Regions from separate parts of the Homo sapiens genome. Here region 1 is linked to region 2. Evidence: fine-mapped QTL for protein levels in blood plasma. Region 2 holds a variant in brackets. A gene starts in the other region. All regions are shown on their reverse strands.

What was found. PIP is the chance, under the fine-mapping model, that this variant and not a neighbour inherited with it causes the effect. The UK Biobank Pharma Proteomics Project read protein levels with antibody pairs (Olink). The fine-mapping took linkage between variants from a reference panel, not from the people measured, so its PIPs are less certain.
Region 1: it holds the start of FUCA1, and the variant in region 2 is fine-mapped to the plasma level of the FUCA1 protein (UK Biobank, PIP 0.91).

The regions. Positions count from the first base shown.
Region 1 is chr1:23,864,004-23,872,555 of GRCh38, reverse strand. FUCA1 (alpha-L-fucosidase 1) reads left to right here and starts at 4,266. Exons shown (of 8, transcript NM_000147.5): 1 at 4,266-4,658; 2 at 6,931-7,065. The coding sequence starts at 4,270. It overlaps CNR2 (cannabinoid receptor 2), which reads left to right. Exons shown (of 2, transcript NM_001841.3): 2 at 1-2,041. RefSeq lists a silencer at 4,635-4,854 and an enhancer at 6,105-7,304.
Region 2 is chr14:93,214,875-93,223,325 of GRCh38, reverse strand. UBR7 (ubiquitin protein ligase E3 component n-recognin 7) reads right to left here. Exons shown (of 11, transcript NM_175748.4): 5 at 8,344-8,397; 6 at 8,045-8,150; 7 at 4,591-4,799; 8 at 3,965-4,114; 9 at 2,915-3,077; 10 at 952-1,013. Among named protein-coding and RNA genes, the nearest start is that of UBR7, 12 kb to the right of the region's middle. The variant A/C (reference allele first, on the strand shown) is at 4,184.

The sequences.
Region 1 (8,552 bases), not on the chromosome of region 2:
CTTAACCACTAACCTTTTGTCCTAGTTCAGTCAAATTCTGCTTGATTATTGCTCATTAGGGATAATATTAGCTATCTGTAGCATCAGATTGCTGCAAAGTTAACTCATCGTAGATTCTCAATATACTCCATTTTATTAAATGGCCCCGTATTAATCTCCTGTAATAAATTTCACAAATCCAGTGGCTTATCAACAGAAATTTACTGTCTCATAATTCTGGAGGCCAGAAGTCAAAATCAAGATGTGGTAGGGCCCTGCTCCCTCCAAAAGTTTAAGGGGAGAATTATTCCTTGACTCTTTCAACTTCTGGCAGTCCCTGTCATTCCTTGGCTTGTGGAAACATCACTCCTACCTCTGACTCTGTCTTCATATGGCATTTCCTCTGTGTCTCTTGGTGTCTTTTTTTTTTTTTTTTTTTTTTTTGAGACGGAATCTCATTCTGTTGTCCAGGCAGGAGTGCAGTGACATGATCTTGGCTCACTGCAACCTCCACCTCTCAGGTTCAAGTGATTCTCCTGCCTCAGCCTCCCAAATAGCTGGGACTACAGGCACCCGCCACCACACTCAGCTAATTTTTGTATTTTTAGTAGAGATGGGGTTTCACCATCTTGCCCAGGCTGGTCTTGAACTCCTGACCTCAAGTGATCCGCCCACCTTGGCCTCCTAAATTGCTGGGATTACAGACGTGAGCCACCATACCCGGCCTGGTGTCTTTTTTAAAGAATATCAGTCACTGGATTTGGGCCCACCCTAATCCTAATAGTATGACTTCATCTTAATTTAACCAATTATATCTGTAGAGACCCTGTTTCCAAATAAGGTCACATTCACAGATTCCAGGTGGACAAGAAGTTTAGGCGGACACTATTCAACTCAGTACAGACCCAGGAACAAAGTCCACCCACTGGGCTGTGTTGAGTGGCAGTCACTAGTTTATCCTCCCTCAACAAGATGAGCTCCAGGTTGACCTCTGCATCCCCAGTGCTCAGTCAGGACCCAGCAGAGCATCTGAAGGGATCTGGTCAATATGTGTGGAACTGAACTGTTTCTGAAAAGCTCTGACGTATGTTTTGGAAAATCAAATCTTGTTTTAATCCAGACACCAATCTTTTTGTAAGGCAAACAAGTAGCATAAATGTTTAAAAGTGAATTTGCATGTTTATATACTGTCATTCCTTAAAGTTGAAGCATGCCTTTCTTTATTCATCGGTGGAATCCTTTCTCATTTTGGCAAAGAAAATGCCCAAGTGCCTGGCACAAACAAGCACTGAGTAAATACTTCTTGAATGAATAAAACTAGATTCTAAAAATCATTTGATCAAACGCAACTCCACACTTTCTACTTCTCTTCTTTTAGAACCACACTGTATTTCTGCTTTTTTTTTTTTTTTTTTTTTTTTTGACATAGAATCTCACTCTGTCACCCAGGTTGGAGTGCAGTGGCATGCAATCTTGGCTCACTGCAACCTCTGCCTCCTGGGTTCAAGCAGTTCTCCTGCCTTAGCCTCCCATGTAGCTGGGATTACAGGTACCCGCCACCATGCCCAGCTAATTTTTGTATTGTTAGTAGAGATGGAATTTCACCATATTGGCCAGGCTGGTCTTGAACTCCTGACTTCAAGTGATCCACCCACCTTAGCCTCCCAAAGTGCTAGGATTACAGGTGTGAGCCACCACTCCCAGCCCCTATGTCTGCTTTAAGTGGAGAAGCAGAGCTTATGAGGGAGGAGAACAAGGGTGCAAAAGGGACCTAGATATCACTGAGAACTGCCCTTGTTGTTTGGTTGAGGAAATGGGCCCAGACAGTGGACAAGACTTGCTCAGGGAGACAAACGAGATGGTGTCCAGTGCAACAAACCTAGGTTTCCTAACTTCCAGTTCTGTCCACTCTACATCAGTGCCTCTCACCTGTCCCTGCAGGTTCACATTTTGGTTATGTGGATAAGGAGAAATAAATTGAAGATCACAATGTCCCATTTTATCTTCCCCAAGACAAGCTCTGTAACATTAAAGACCACTATGCAAACCGATTACTAGAAAATGTGTGTGGATGGGTTCGGTTTTTTTCCTAAGGTGTTCATGCTTACTGTTTTGGGCAATATTTCAACATAATCTGGCAGAAAAAGAAACAGAAGATAAAGAAAATAGCTGTAGGCCGGGTGCAGTGGCTCATGCCTGTAATCCCAGCACTTTGGAAGGCTGAGGCTGGCGGATCACTTGAGGTCAGGAGTTCGAGACCAGCCTGGCCAACACGGCGAAACCCCATCTGTATTAAAAATACAAAAATTAGCCAGGCGTGGTGGCGTACCTGTAAACCCAGCTACTCGGGAGGCTGAGGCAGGAGAATGGCTTGAACCCAGGAGGTGGAGGTTGCAGTGAGCTGAGATTGCAGCACTGCATTCCAGCCTGGGCGACAGAGCAAGACTGCATCTCAAAAGAAAAGAAAAGAAAAAAGAAAAGAAAAGAAAAGAAAACAGCTGTGATTCAGCAATAGTCATTTTCTCTCCTTGTCACTGCCAGAGTGAGGAAGTGCTGGGTTCTGTCAACATAGGCTCTGACTTCTCATGAGGTGCAAGAAAGAAGCAGCATGAACAAAGGCATAGATTTTGCACCTGGAGACACGTATTCTAGTCCCACCTCTGACTCAAACTAGCTGCATGATCTTGGGCAGCCCCCCAGCCCTCTCTGGGCTTCAGTTCCCTCCTCGGTACAATGGGAAGGGTAGGGAAGAGGATGGTGCCTAGGATCTTCAAAGTCCCAACTCTGATGTGCTGCCATTCTCTCACTGGCATGTGGGAACTGAGTGTGCTACGTGGAGTCATGAGACTTCTTCTTCCTTTTCTTTTTCTTTTTTTTTTTTTTTTTTTTTGAGACCGAGTCTCACTCTGTCGCCCAGGCTGGAGTGCAGTGGTGCGATCTCGGCTCACTGTAACCTCCACCTCCCGAGTTCAAGCAATTCTCCTGCCTCAGCCTCCTGAGTAGCTGGGATTACAGGCGCACCCCATGCCCGGCTAATTTTTGTATTTTTAGTAGAGATGGGGTTTCACCATGTTGGCCAGGCTGGTCTCAAACTCCCGACCTCAGGTGATCTGCCCACCTCGGCCTCCCAAAGTGCTGGGATTACAGGCGTGAGCCACCTTGTCTGTTCAGAGACTTCTGACTTCCGTATTTCCCTCGCTAATGGCCTCACCTCCCGTTTGAGTATGTGCAGCATGTGCAAATTGCAGAGGAACTGGGGAACTTCCCTGCCAGGCAATCCTGGGTCCTCTTGGCTCTCCACTTCCTCCTTCCTTCCTTCCTTCCTCCTTCCTTCCTTCCTTCCTTCCTTTCTTTCTTCCTTGGTCTGGCTCTGTCGCCCAGGGGCTGGAGTGCAGTGGCGGTATCTCGGTACAAACTAAGCTATTTGAAATGCCTCGGAATTCCCAAAGAAAGCTCAGTAAATACCAGACAGATGAAACGGTCCTGCCCGCTCTCCCTCTTTCAGTACCCAGTTTTCTCTTTCCTCTCCTTTCATAACGTTTCTTCCCATCATCCCTCTACCTCCTTATTTCTGTCAGGGCTGTTAGATACCCTTCCGGTCTGTTATCTCCTCCTCCAGCCTTGTGCTACAGGACAACTCAAAAGCCCCCTATGGCTCCCAAGTGATCACTAAATAAAACTCGTGATCTCACTTCAGCCTACCCCTGCAGGATTGCTGCGGCAAAATGGACTACTCCCAGAGGCGTGATCACGGTTCGGTTCACTGCAGCCCAGACTTCCCGGGCTCAAGCGATCCCGAACCTCCCACCTCAGCCTCTCGAGTAGCTGGGACTCCAGACGTGCACCACTACGCCAGGCTCATTTTGTTTATTTTTTATAGAGACAGGCTAGTCTCCAACTTGTGGGCTCAGAGCGATCCTCCCGCCTCGACTTCCGAAAGTGTTAGGATTACAGGCGTGAGCCACTGCGTCCGGCTCAATGGACTCCTTCTTAAATGTGAGTTCTCCGCACACACTGGGCCTTGCTCACCTCCACGATTTAACCTCGCAGTTAAGTCCCTTTTCAAGGTTTTTATTCGTCCTTCAGCGAAGCGCTGTCAACGCCTCCCTGCGTCTTTCCCTTCTTGAGCACCAGAGGGCGCTCCTCCGACCCGAGGAGGAAGCGACTCGGGCCAACCTGTCCAGGTTGTCCCACCCCTTTTTCCTTCCGGGCCAATCGTTAGTCAGAGTGGGCGGAGCCGCCCGCGGGCACCTGCGCGTTAAGAGTGGGCCGCGTCGCTGAGGGGTAGCGATGCGGGCTCCGGGGATGAGGTCGCGGCCGGCGGGTCCCGCGCTGTTGCTGCTGCTGCTCTTCCTCGGAGCGGCCGAGTCGGTGCGTCGGGCCCAGCCTCCGCGCCGCTACACCCCAGACTGGCCGAGCCTGGATTCTCGGCCGCTGCCGGCCTGGTTCGACGAAGCCAAGTTCGGGGTGTTCATCCACTGGGGCGTGTTCTCGGTGCCCGCCTGGGGCAGCGAGTGGTTCTGGTGGCACTGGCAGGGCGAGGGGCGGCCGCAGTACCAGCGCTTCATGCGCGACAACTACCCGCCCGGCTTCAGCTACGCCGACTTCGGACCGCAGTTCACTGCGCGCTTCTTCCACCCGGAGGAGTGGGCCGACCTCTTCCAGGCCGCGGGCGCCAAGTGAGTGTGGTCCCGGGGAGCGGCGCCCCTTCCCGGCTCGGGCGGCAAACAGGAGGTGGGGCTGGGCGGCCAGCTGGGGCGCGCAGCTGCCGGTCGCCCCCATGACCCCGGGGCCCGCGTGTGGCCTCCTGCGGCCACAGGAGTGAGCCTGGCACACCTGATGAGGAGGAGGAGGTGCGTTTGACTGGGGACTGATAAATGAAGGTTCAGGGAGATGGCAGGCTGGGAAGCCCTGGGTATCTGCACCTGTGCACCGAGAGGGCTGAGTTAGGCCATACCTGATGTCCCTTTCAGATTGACAGCACTATCAGGACTCCAGGGTTTCAAATCAGTGGTGTGGAGCCTGGTTCTAATTCAACTGTGAACCTGGACATGTCACTTCAGCCTCCCTGCAGCCTCTTCTATGGTTGTAGAAAGGGGTTATATAAGGATACAACCCTTTGAGCCCTAATGTCTCTAAGAGGGAAAGAGAGGGGAGTTCTGGTGTGCAGTGTATTTGGGCAACAGTACAGATAGTCATTCGTTTGCTCCTCTCAATCCCTTTTACGTAGGAAGTGTCCAGGAAGGGTCTGACTCTCTCTGAGAACTGTTGGAACTTGGGGGTGGCTGGTTCAGAGAACAGAGTAGAGAGCGCTGGGGTGGGGATAAGGGGAGACCACGACCCATGAAGTTGTCAAGGCAGGGGCTTGTCCTGAAGGAGTGAGCCTTGAGAGCCCTGTATTGACAGATGTTAAGTCAGGGAGTGGTTACTATCAGCTTCTAGAAAGATTCATTCGGCTGCTGGGAGAGAAGTGGGTTGGAGAAGAGTAAAAATGGAGGCGGGGAGGTTTCCCCAGCCCCTGGCTTAGAGCAGTCTTCCATCCTTACCTTGGTTCCTCAGCCATCTTCCGGGTTTTCGTTTCTCTTGAACTTTGAATTCACTTGTACTAAAGAGAAGTTACAACTGGCATTTAGTGTTTGCCATTAAATGTATGGGAGTATAAGACTTGATTAAGCAGAGGAAGTGTTTGTCTCCTAGGGGCCTTAGGGATCCATAACTTACAAGTGAGAAAAATTAAAATCTGGGAGATAACCTCTTTCCATGCCTTTTATTTCATGGATGAGATGACTGGCCCAAAGAGAGGAAGGAATATAATGTCCTAGACTCCAGGTCTCATGACGTCAAGGTTGTTTCCACTGCACCAGGGTCTGCAAACTGGCCAGAGGGATTGGTCCTCTGCCAGTTTTTTAAGGCCCATGAGGTGAGAATGGTTTTTACATTTTTAAAGGGTTGTAAAATGTTTTAAAGAAGAATACACTACAGAGAGGAATGTGCTCCCACAGAGCCTAAAATACTATCTGGCCCTTCAAATCCTGGAGTTCCCTACTCTGGCCAATGATTGAACCATAAAGTGCATTACCTATTTTTGTGCCATAAAAGCAAATTAAATATTGAGTGATTTGGTTGTTATTTCAACACTTGCCTTTTCTCCCAGTTATTGGGTCTTTTGTCACCTCTATAATAAATGAGAGGCAATTTATGTAGGCTTGGTAAACCAAACAGCTTAGTTTTCTAGAAAGTTTTCTATTTTGTTGTTATTGTTGTTTTGAAACAGTTTTGCTCTGTAGCCCAGGCTGGAGTACAGTTGCATGATCTCGGCTCACTGCAACCTCTGTCTCCCAGGCTCAAGTGATTCTTATGCCCCAGCCTCTCAAATACCTGGGACTACAGGCACACACCACCATGCCCGGCTAATTTTTGTATTTTTAGTTGAGATGGGTTTTCGCCTCATTGGCCAGGTTGGTCTTGAACCCCTGACCTCAGGTAATCCGCCCACCTTGGCCTCCCAAAGTGCTGGGATTACAGGTGTGAGCCACCATGCCTGGCCAGCAAATGGCTTAGTTTTCTATTATCTGCCATTTCCAGTAGAGCTCTTTCTCCTTCAGGGCAAAGAATGAAAGAAAGTTAATCGTTCCTACCAGAAGTGTTGAAGAATCAGAGAGCTAAGGTGCACTTCTTTTCCCTTACCCACTCCTTCCTTCCCTCTGGGCCTCCTCCTTTGCTGGGGACTGAGGGTTGGGACTTCCTCAAATCTGCTTCCATTCTTGGAGCAATGCCCAAGGGGAATTGTGACTGCAGCAGCTTCCTGGATATCACTAATATAGTCACTGGTACAAGTACATTTGTTGTGGTCAAGTTCTTTCAGCTATTTAAAAAGCCTCAGGCATGCTGGGCAAGTTCATGCAAGTTCACTGCCCACTTCCTTTGCTCATGTGGTTTTGCTGTCCACAGGTATGTAGTTTTGACGACAAAGCATCACGAAGGCTTCACAAACTGGCCGAGTCCTGTGTCTTGGAACTGGAACTCCAAAGACGTGGGGCCTCATCGGGATTTGGTTGGTGAATTGGGAACAGCTCTCCGGAAGAGGTGAGTGTCCAGGGATGGTTACTCTGTTATCTCTTTGGATCTGGCTGTCAAGAGTTCTGTACCTCCTCTACTTGCGTGTGTTTTCTAGGTTTGCATATAGCAAGTAGCCTGAAGGGCTTTTGGCCTTCTACTCCTGTGTGTTTTCTAGGTTTGCATATAGCAAGTAGCCGGAAGGGCTTCTGGCCTTTGAATTGGCAGTGTTTGATGCTTCACAGTTTTCACGTGACCAAAGGGGACACCGTTACAGAAGTTCATGGCCATGTCTGGTTAGATGAAGGATACCCAACATAGACTACGATGCTACTTGATGTCCTGTTTGAGGAGTAGGCTGAGTGTCTGTATAAATCATAAAGTTTGATTGGAACACAGCCATGCCTATTCATTTATGCACTGTCTGTGACTGCTTTCAAGCTACAATTTGAGAGCTGAGATAGAGACCAAATGGCCTGCAAAACCTAAAACACTGTCTGGATCTTTAAGAGTTCACTGGTCGGGTGCGTTGACTCACACTTGTAATCCCAGGACTTTGGGAGGCAGAGGCAAGCAGATCATGAGGTCAGGAGTTCAAGACCAACCTGACCAATATGGTGAAACCCTGTCTCTACTAAAAATACCAAAATTAGCCGGGCGTGGTGGCGTTTGCCTGTAGTCCCAGCAACTCGGGAGGCTGAGGTAGGAGAATCACTTGAACCCAGGAGGCGGAGGTTGCAGTGAGCCAAGATCGCACCACTGCACTCCAGCGTGGGTGGCAGAGCGAGACTCCGTCTCAAAAAAAAAAAAAAAAGAAAAAAGACAAAAAGAGTTTGCTGACTCCTGTCACCTGCTCAGTTTGTTTCTCAGCACTGTGCTTTGCTTAAAGTCCTGCTGTAAAACTCTGAGATATTGATTAGATATGGACTTCAGGAGTCATGATTTTTACCATCTTTATTTAGTCCCTGGGTCATATGATGAAATACTTCAGTTGTTTTTTATCTGTGTAATTGCTTCTTGCATTATAAGGTTTTTGTAACACTCACCATTCTTAACCCAAAGCAAGCTTTATTAAATATGAAAATAGGTCATCAACCACATTTCATTTTGTGTACGTTAAGAACTATTAGTTTGGCCAGGCGTGGTGACTTACGCCTGTAATCCCAGCACTTTGGGAGGCCGAGGCGGGTGGATCATGAGGTCAGGAGATCAAGACCATCCTGGCTAACACAGTGAAACCCCGTCTCTAGTAAAAATAAAAAATAAATTAGCTGGGTGTGGTGGTGGGCACCTGTAGTCTCAGCTACTTGGGAGGCTGAGGTAGGAGAATGGCGTGAACCCGGGAGGTAGAGCTTGCAGTGAGCCGAGATTGCGCCACTGCACTCCAGCCTGGGCGACAGAGCGAGACTCCATCTCAAAAAAAAAAAAAAAAAGGAAAAAAAGAGAAAGAACTATTAGTAAATCTTAGATAAATAAAACGATAAACCTATATTCATTTCAACTGTGTGGAAAATGTT
Region 2 (8,451 bases):
CCTGTGGGGTTCAAGCGTTTCTCCTGCCTCAGCCTCGGAGTAGCTGGGATTACAGGCACCCGCCCTCATACCCAGCTAATTTGTGTATTTTTGTAGAGACAAGGTTTCACCATGTTGGCCAGGCTGGTCTTGAACTCCTGACCTCAGGTGATCCACCCACCTCAGCCTCCTAAAGTGCTGGGATTAAGGCGTGAGCCACTGCACCCGGCCACCATGCCCAGTTTCTATTCTAAACCATGGAACTTAGAATTCCAGAAACTGGGTCTGGTGTTAATTTTTCCTGTCCAGTCATTTTCCCCTCCCCGTCCCAAAGATCCATGCTTCAAGGTCAGGACCAGCAGAATCAGTACTGCGGATTCCTTCCAATGACCTTCTGCTAAGCTACAAGTACTCTCTCAGAGGCTGTGGGACTGCGCCCTCCCATCATTCTTCCCGGCTTAGCTGGGGTTGGTAAGGACTGCCAATGTAACTCTGATGTTTCACTACCTCTTATTCATTCCCCTTAGCCTGCCAATTTGCTCAAAACAGTCCCTGAATTCAACTCTCAAGTACCCACTTAAGTCGCAGTCATTTTTTTTTTTTTGAAATAGGGTCTTGCTCTGTCGCCCAGGCTGGGGTGCAGTGGCGTGTTCTCGGCTCACTACAACCTCCGCCTCCTGGGTTCAAGTGAGTCTCCTGCCTCAGCCTCCCTAGTAGCTGGGACTACAGGCGCCCATCACCACGCCTGGCTAATTTTCGTATTTTTAGTAGAGATGGGGTTTCACCATATTGGCTAGGCTGGTCTTGAACTCCTGACCTTGTGATCCACCCACATTGGCCTCCCAAAGTACTGGGATTACAGGTGTGAGCCACCGCACCCCGCCAGTCGCAGTCATTTTTAATCGTCAAAGGAAATAAACCCTTCATTCAAAACTTACAGGGCTATGATTAGAATTCTTTAACTCAACATACCGTGCCTTCATCAGCAAATCTCTTGAGATAGTCTTTAAGTTCAGTCTTCAAATCATTGTATTCTAAATCAAAACCACAAAAGTATTTAAGTTTAGATAAACCATTTGCTTTCAAAAACAAAATATTCTTTGCCATTGACACCTGAGTCTGTTAATAATGTAGTCTAAATAAAAATTTTCTTAAGTGAAAGCTGCATAGAAACTCGTTCCCAAATTATCTGTACGTCTACCATGTTGATATGAGACCCTTTTTCATTAAAAAAAAAAAAAGCAAAATTTTTTAAAAAGCATAAAAAGCAGAGATATCCTAATCCCATAAAGATTAAGAATTTTTAAAAGGGCTTCCTATTTCTCTGGAATTCTGGTAGCTGAAATAACCTTGGACTTGTTGAATATTTAATTTAATTTAATTTATTTTATTTTTTGAGATGGAGTCTCACTCTGTCACCCAGGCTGGAATGCAGTGGCACGATCTCGGCTCACTGCAACCTCCGCCTCCCGAGTAGCTGGGACTACAGGCACGCGCCACCATGCCTGGCTACTTTTTTATATTTTTAGTAGAGACAGGGTTTCACCACGTCAGCCAGGCTGGTCTTGAACTCCTGACCTCAGGTGATCCACCTGCCTTGGCCTCCCAAAGTGCTGGGATTACAGGCGTGAGCCATGGCGCCCAGCCCAAGCAAACTGACTCACTTAACAGTTTATATTATGTACAAGGTACCTTGAGGGCTACAAGTATCTTTTAGGTGCATCCTCTATCCTTGAAAAGTTTTTACTCTAATAAAGGCAAAAAGAAATTAATAATTATAAATAAAAGACACGGCCAGGTGCAGTGGCTTGCACCTGTAATCCCAGCACTTTGGGAGGCTGAGGCAGGTGGATCACCTCAGCTCGGGAGTTCGAGACCAGCCTGGGTGACATGGTGAAACCCTGACTCTACTAAAAATACAAAAATTAGTGGGGACTGGGCATGGTGGCTCATGCCTGTAATCCCAGTACTTTGGGAGGCCAAGGCAGGTAGATCACCTGAGGTCAGAAGTTCGAAACCAGCTTGGCCAACATGGTAAAACCTTGTCTCTACTAAAAATACAAAGTAAATTAGCCAAGCATGGTGGCAGGTGCCTGTAATCCCAGCTACTTGGGAGGCTGAGGCAGGAGAATCACTTGAACCTGGGAGGCAGAGGTTGCAGTGAGCCGAGATCGCGCCACTGCACTCCAGCCTGGGTGACAGAGTGAGACTCCATCTCAAAAAAAAAAAAAAAATTGGGGGGGCGCAGTGGCATGCGTCTGTGGTCACAGCTACTTGAGAGACTGAGGCAGGAGAATCACTTGAGCCTGGGCAGCAGAGGTTGCAGTGAGCTGAGAATGCACCATTGCACTCCAGCCTGGGCAACAGAGCAAGACCCTGTCTCAAAATAAATAAATAAATAATAAAAGACAGAAATGACTGATGCTATAAAAGTCACATAAAAGTGGTGGCATCCAAGTGGAAATGGCTGGGATAGAAACCACTGAAATAAGTTTGGCCTGCTGCAGCTGGGTGGTGGTGGGGGGATGTAAAAGCCTTCAATCAAGGGTTTGGGGGTATTTTCTCCTCTAGTGGTTTCCTGTGAACCACTGAAGCAACCTCAAGAACTGTCAAAATGGTGACATGCCTTGCTCAAGAACATGACACATAATGTCCAAAAATTGTTTCAATGGATGGAAAATTTGCATTCATCCATCTACCCTTAATCAGAATAGCATATGTTGTGGTTTCTCAAGCATGTAATTATTCTAGCATGTAACTCTGATTCAATGGTAAAAGCAGCTGAATACCCACCAATATGAAAATCAAGCAATGGTCTAAAATTCAAAATTTTAATTCTTTGTATTAAATTAAAAATATAGGTGTTTACTGCCCCCTTTATATTTTTTTACATAGTGAAGGAAATGATGAATTTTCACACACACACAGTATTTACCACAAATGAGTTCCACTTGCTGGACTCTATTCATGCTGCTAAGGGTATCCATTAGGGGATCGCTCCTGTCAGTGGCCTGGGCAATCTTCCCTTTGTTTTCATAAGCCAGAACTGTGTCGTATTCATCTGTCAGGAATAAGACATCTAGATCTCCATACATTTTCTTTAGGGAAAAAAAAAAAAAAAAAAGAAAGAGGAGTTTCCCCATTAGAACTGTTTATCATTCTCAGAAAGCCAATTTCCTGAGAATCACTAAAAATGTAATTTTTTTATATTAAGACCTAGAAAAACTGGAGCGTCTTTAACACAGAATTGCTAGAAGGATTTATTCTTTTTGCCTAAATTTCTTTCAGAAATCTCCCAATTTCCCAGATGTCATATGGTCTATGAGATCTTTATTTAAAAACCATTGATTTACTGTTAACTTTTTTTTTTTTTGAGATGGAGTTTCACTCGTTGCCCAGGCTGGAGTGCAATGGCATGATCTCGACTCATTGCAACCTCCGCCTTCTGGGTTCAAGCGATTCTCCTGCCTTGGCCTCCCAAGGAGCTGGGATTACAGGCATGTGCCACCACACCCAGCTAATTTTGTATTTTTAGTACAGACAGGATTTCACCATGTTGGTCAGGCTGGTCTCGAACTCCTGACCTCAGGTGATCGAGACCTAACTTGGCCTCCCAGAGTGCTGGGATTACAGGCGTGAGCCAAAGCACCTGGCCAATTTACTATAACTTTCAACCAGTGTTTCCAAGCAACTTTGATATAACAAAGATAAGTAAACTAAAATTAAAATAAGTAAATTTAAAATACTGCATAATTATCCATTTCTTCCACAAACATTCCAACTGTAAGTACTATGTCATAAATTTGCTTAATGTAAAAATTTGGAGGGTCTCCTAAACATTAATTTCATAAATATATTGTTCAGGTGTTCTTTTTATTTTCCTTTCTTCCTCTGGTACAAAAATTGAATGTTTTCCCCAGGTGTTCTTATTTTGGGGCACCAGTACACAAAACATGCTAACACTGAGCACAATCAGATACTTTACCATACAGTCTTGGCAGGTACACAACTTGCTACGCCAGTTCAGGGGCCAATAGGTGGCAGTGTCTTTCTTTATAAGCTGCTTAGCTTTAAGCTCCTGAAGTTTGCAGCCAGATTTTGATTCTGCGTTGAGGCTTTCATTCTTAAACACTGTCTGAAATAAAATTAAGTTTTGAAGCATGTTTTTTAAACTACCATAGTTTTCATAGTTTAGATTTTGTAA[A/C]GAGATTTCTTTAGGCAAAGGATAAAATTGAAATCCAAAGCCATAAGTTTACAGAATTAATTCCACTTCAGTTTTCTTTTTTTTTTTTGAGACGGAATCTCATTCTGTTGCCCAGGCTAGAGTGCAGTGGCATGATCTCGGATCACTGTAACCTCCGCCTCCTGGGTTCAAGCAATTCTCCTGCCTCAGCCTCCTGAGTAGCTGGGATTACAGGCATGTGCCACCATGCCTGGCTAGTTTTTGTAATTTTAGTAGAGATGAGGTTTACCCATGTTGCCAAGGCTGGTCTCAAACCCGTGACCTCAGGTGATCCGCCACCTCAGCCTCCCAAAGTGCTGGGATTATGGGCATGAGCCACCGCGCCTGGCCCAGTCTTATTTCTTGATGGCTCGTACTTCACACATTACCTGGAGATCAGATTCAGAACTAGAGCCGGCACATGGTTCACTGTTCTGCTCTACTTTAACCTCCCGGACATCATCCTTTCCCTGTTCTGGAACATCCTCTTTGAGGGTACTATCTTGATGCTCTCCATTTTCAGGTTTGATAACTTCCTGATCACCTATTCCATCAATGTTCCGCACCAATCCATCATCCTCAGTGGATATTTTGGTTACTGTGAGTTCAAAGAAAAAGAAAAACACATACACACATATCCACTGACCTAACGGACAATAAAATCCCAACAGACAATAAAATCACTTATTCTATTATTATTATTTTTTTTTTTTACAGACAGAGTCTCACTCTGTCGTCCACACTGGAGTGCAGTGGCATGGTCTTGACTCACTGCAACCTCTGTCTCCCAGGTTCAAGCAATTCTCATGCCTCAGCCACCCGAGTAGCTGGGACTACAGGTGCGTGCCACCATGACTGGCTAATTTTTTGTATTTTTAGTAGAGACGGGGTTTCGCCATGTTGGCCAGGCTGGTCTTGAACTCCTGATGTCAAGTGATCTGCCTGCCTCAGCCTCCCAAAGTGCTGGGATTACAGGTGTGAGCCACCACATCAGGCATACAATAGCTTTTGCTATTTTTTTTTTTTTTTTGAGATAGAGTTTCGCTCTTGTTGCCCAGGCTGGAGTGCAATGGCGTGATCTTGGCTCATTGCAACCCCCACCTCCTGGGTTCAGGCAATTCTCCTGCCTCAGCCCCCTGAGTAGCTGGGATTACAGGCATGCACCAGCATGCCTGGCTATTTTTTATTTTTAGTAGAGATGGGGTTTCTCCATGTTGGTCAGGCTGGTCTGGAACTCCTGACCTCAGGTGATCCACCTGCCTCGGCCTCCCAAAGTGCTGGGATTACAGGCATGAGCCACCACATCTGACCTAAAATCACTTTTTCTGATATTAAAATATTTCAGAATCTGGAAAAAGAGATTAGTCCACCGTAGTCTCCGAAATACTGAGAAAGAAAATTCCAACGCTTCTTTAGGTTATGTCTGCCTAACCCAAAGAATTCAAATAATTAAACAGTTTATTTGAAAATATCAATCACTGCTTAAGCACTTTACACATAAAGGAGAAAATATTGTACTGTACTTGTTAGAGACAGAATAATACAAGAAGCAGGAGGAAGAGATTGAATTGTAAACACAGACAGAAGGGTAATTTTTTAAAAACAGCTTTTCTTTATGGGAGGAAGAAATAAAAAAAATGATGGGTGTAGTGGCAGATATACTCTGAGACAGAGAAGAGAAACGATAGGGGAGCTCACATTGGATGCCAGCATTTCAATGTAATAGGAGATGAAGCCATCTGCTGATGGGAGAGGAAATGAAGGGAGAGGCAGGAGATCAATTTAAAAAACCCAATTAAGCTGGGTATGGTAGCTCACACCTGTAATCACAGCACTCTGGGAGGCCAAGGTGGGTGGATCACCTGAGGTCAGGAGTTCGAGACCAGCCTGGCCAACATGGTGAAACCCCTTCTCTACTAAAAATAGAAGAATTAGCTAGGCATGCTGGTGCATGCCTGTAATCCCAGCTACTTGGGAGGCTGAGGCAGGAGAATTGCCTGAACCCAGGAGGCATAGGTTACAGTGAGCAGAGATTGTGCCACTGCACTCCAGCCTGGGCAACAGAGCAAGATTCCGTCTTGAAAAAACAAAAAAACCCAATGAATGAGAACTACACATAGATAGGTTCAGCATCTGTGGACAGTGAGAGAGATCACTGGAAAGGGTGTGAACAGAAAGGGAGCAGCACTTAAGAACTCTGAGGCAAACTGGCCGGGCGTGGTGGCTCATGCCTGTAATCCCAGCACTTTGGGAGACCGAGGCGGGTGGATCACTTGACATCAGGAGTTTGAGACCAGCCTGGCCAACATGGTAAAAGCCTTGTCTCTACTAAAAATACAAAAATTTGCCAGGTGTGGTGGCATGTGCCTGTAGTCCCAGCTACTCTGGAAGCCGCGTCACAAGAATCGCTTGAACCCAGGAGGCAAGGTTGAGGTGAGCCGAGATAGCACCACTGTACTCCAGCCTGGATAACACAGTGAGACTCTGTCTCAAAAAAAAAAAAAAGGCAGAAAAACAAAAGAACTCTAAGGCAAATCTAAACTGTAGGATGAGATCAGAGGTATGGCTATGCTGCTCATGGTTTGTATGGTGAACTGGTCTCTAAAGATGAGAAAGGCAAGAAATTATGAAGCCTAAGCAGCAGATACCATGAGTAACTGCCACCTTAAAAATAAAGAAATACATAAAGCATTACCAATAAGATAGTTAATGCCTCAGGACCATTCATTAATTAGTTGTTTTGATTTAATTTCTTAGTGTATAATAAAAGCACCAGATAGACTGGGCATGGTGGCTCATGCCTGTAATCCCAGCAGTCTGGGAAGCCAAGATGAGTGGATCACTTGAGCTCAGGAGTTCAAGACCAGCCTGGGCAACATGGTGAAACACTGTCTCTACAGAAAATACAAAATTAGCAGGGCATGGTAGTGTGTGCCTGTAGTCCACTTTTATAAAGGCACTAATCCCATTCACGAGGGCTCTGACTTATAAAAGAGGCCCAAGCGAGCTTGTTTGCCCCTTTTAACAGGTACGGACACGTAGAAGGATCTGTCTATGAGGAATGGGCCCTCAACCAAACACTGACTCTGCGGGCACCTGAATTTTGGACTTCCCAGTCTCCAGAACTGTGAGAAATATCTGTCTATTGTTTATAAATTACCCAGCCTAAGGTATTTTGTTTTAGCACCCCAGACAGACTAAGACACCACCTCCTCCCCAACTGATACCATGTGTTAGAATTAACAACTTATTTCAGTTCTATTTATCTTTCAAAATCCCATTCAAAAACTGCCTCCTCCATTCTCTAACTCTGGTCTCATCAATACTCTGCATCATATCATTTAAGTATAAATTTGTTTTTGGTAGTATCCCAACAAATCTATGCACCTTGTGGAGAAAGAACACATACTATTCTTTTTTTTTTTTTTTTTTTTTGAGGATGGAGTCTTGTTCTATTGCCCAGGCTGGACTGCAGTGACGTGATCTCGGCTCACTGCAACCTCTGCCTCCTGGGTTCAAGTGATTCTCCTGCCTCAGCCTCTGGAGTAGCTGGGATTACAGGCAAGCGCCGTGACGCCAGGCTAATTTTCATATTTTTAGTAGAGATGGGGTTTCGCCATGTTGGCCAGGCTGGTCTCGAACTCCTGACCTCAGGTGATCCATCTGTCTTGTTGGCCTCCCAAAGTGCTGGGATTACAGGCGTGAGCCACCATGCCTGGCCAGAACATATACTATTTTATAACCACAGAGCCCAGTTAAAAATAGTTGCTAAAAATTCTGAATTGAACATACAAATTTCACAAGCACAAGTTTGTGGCACACCAACTTCACAAAGATACCTACCTGCCAATTGTGCAGCATAAGCCCACAAAAAAGAACAACGTTTCATGCAGGCCTGGCATACCATCTCCTGAAAATCCCCACTCTCAGGGGGAATGGCACCAAGATGCTGTGAATATAGAACACCAAAAATTTTCTTGTGATTGCCAAATTGTCCAAAATGCCCATTATTTTATAAATACTGTAATAATACACTGATCATATCATTAGAATTTATTTTTAGAAGACTAATTATAATGTAAAATATAACCTTTATCTTTTTGTGACAACAATGGTTTCAAAAGGTGGAACATTTTCCTTACCCTTCCATGGAACCAGTCTTCACAGACTACGCACTGGATCATCTCATCTGGAATCTAACAGAGAAAAGCAGTTTGTTAAGGATTACATTGAATTCGGGAACATGGAAA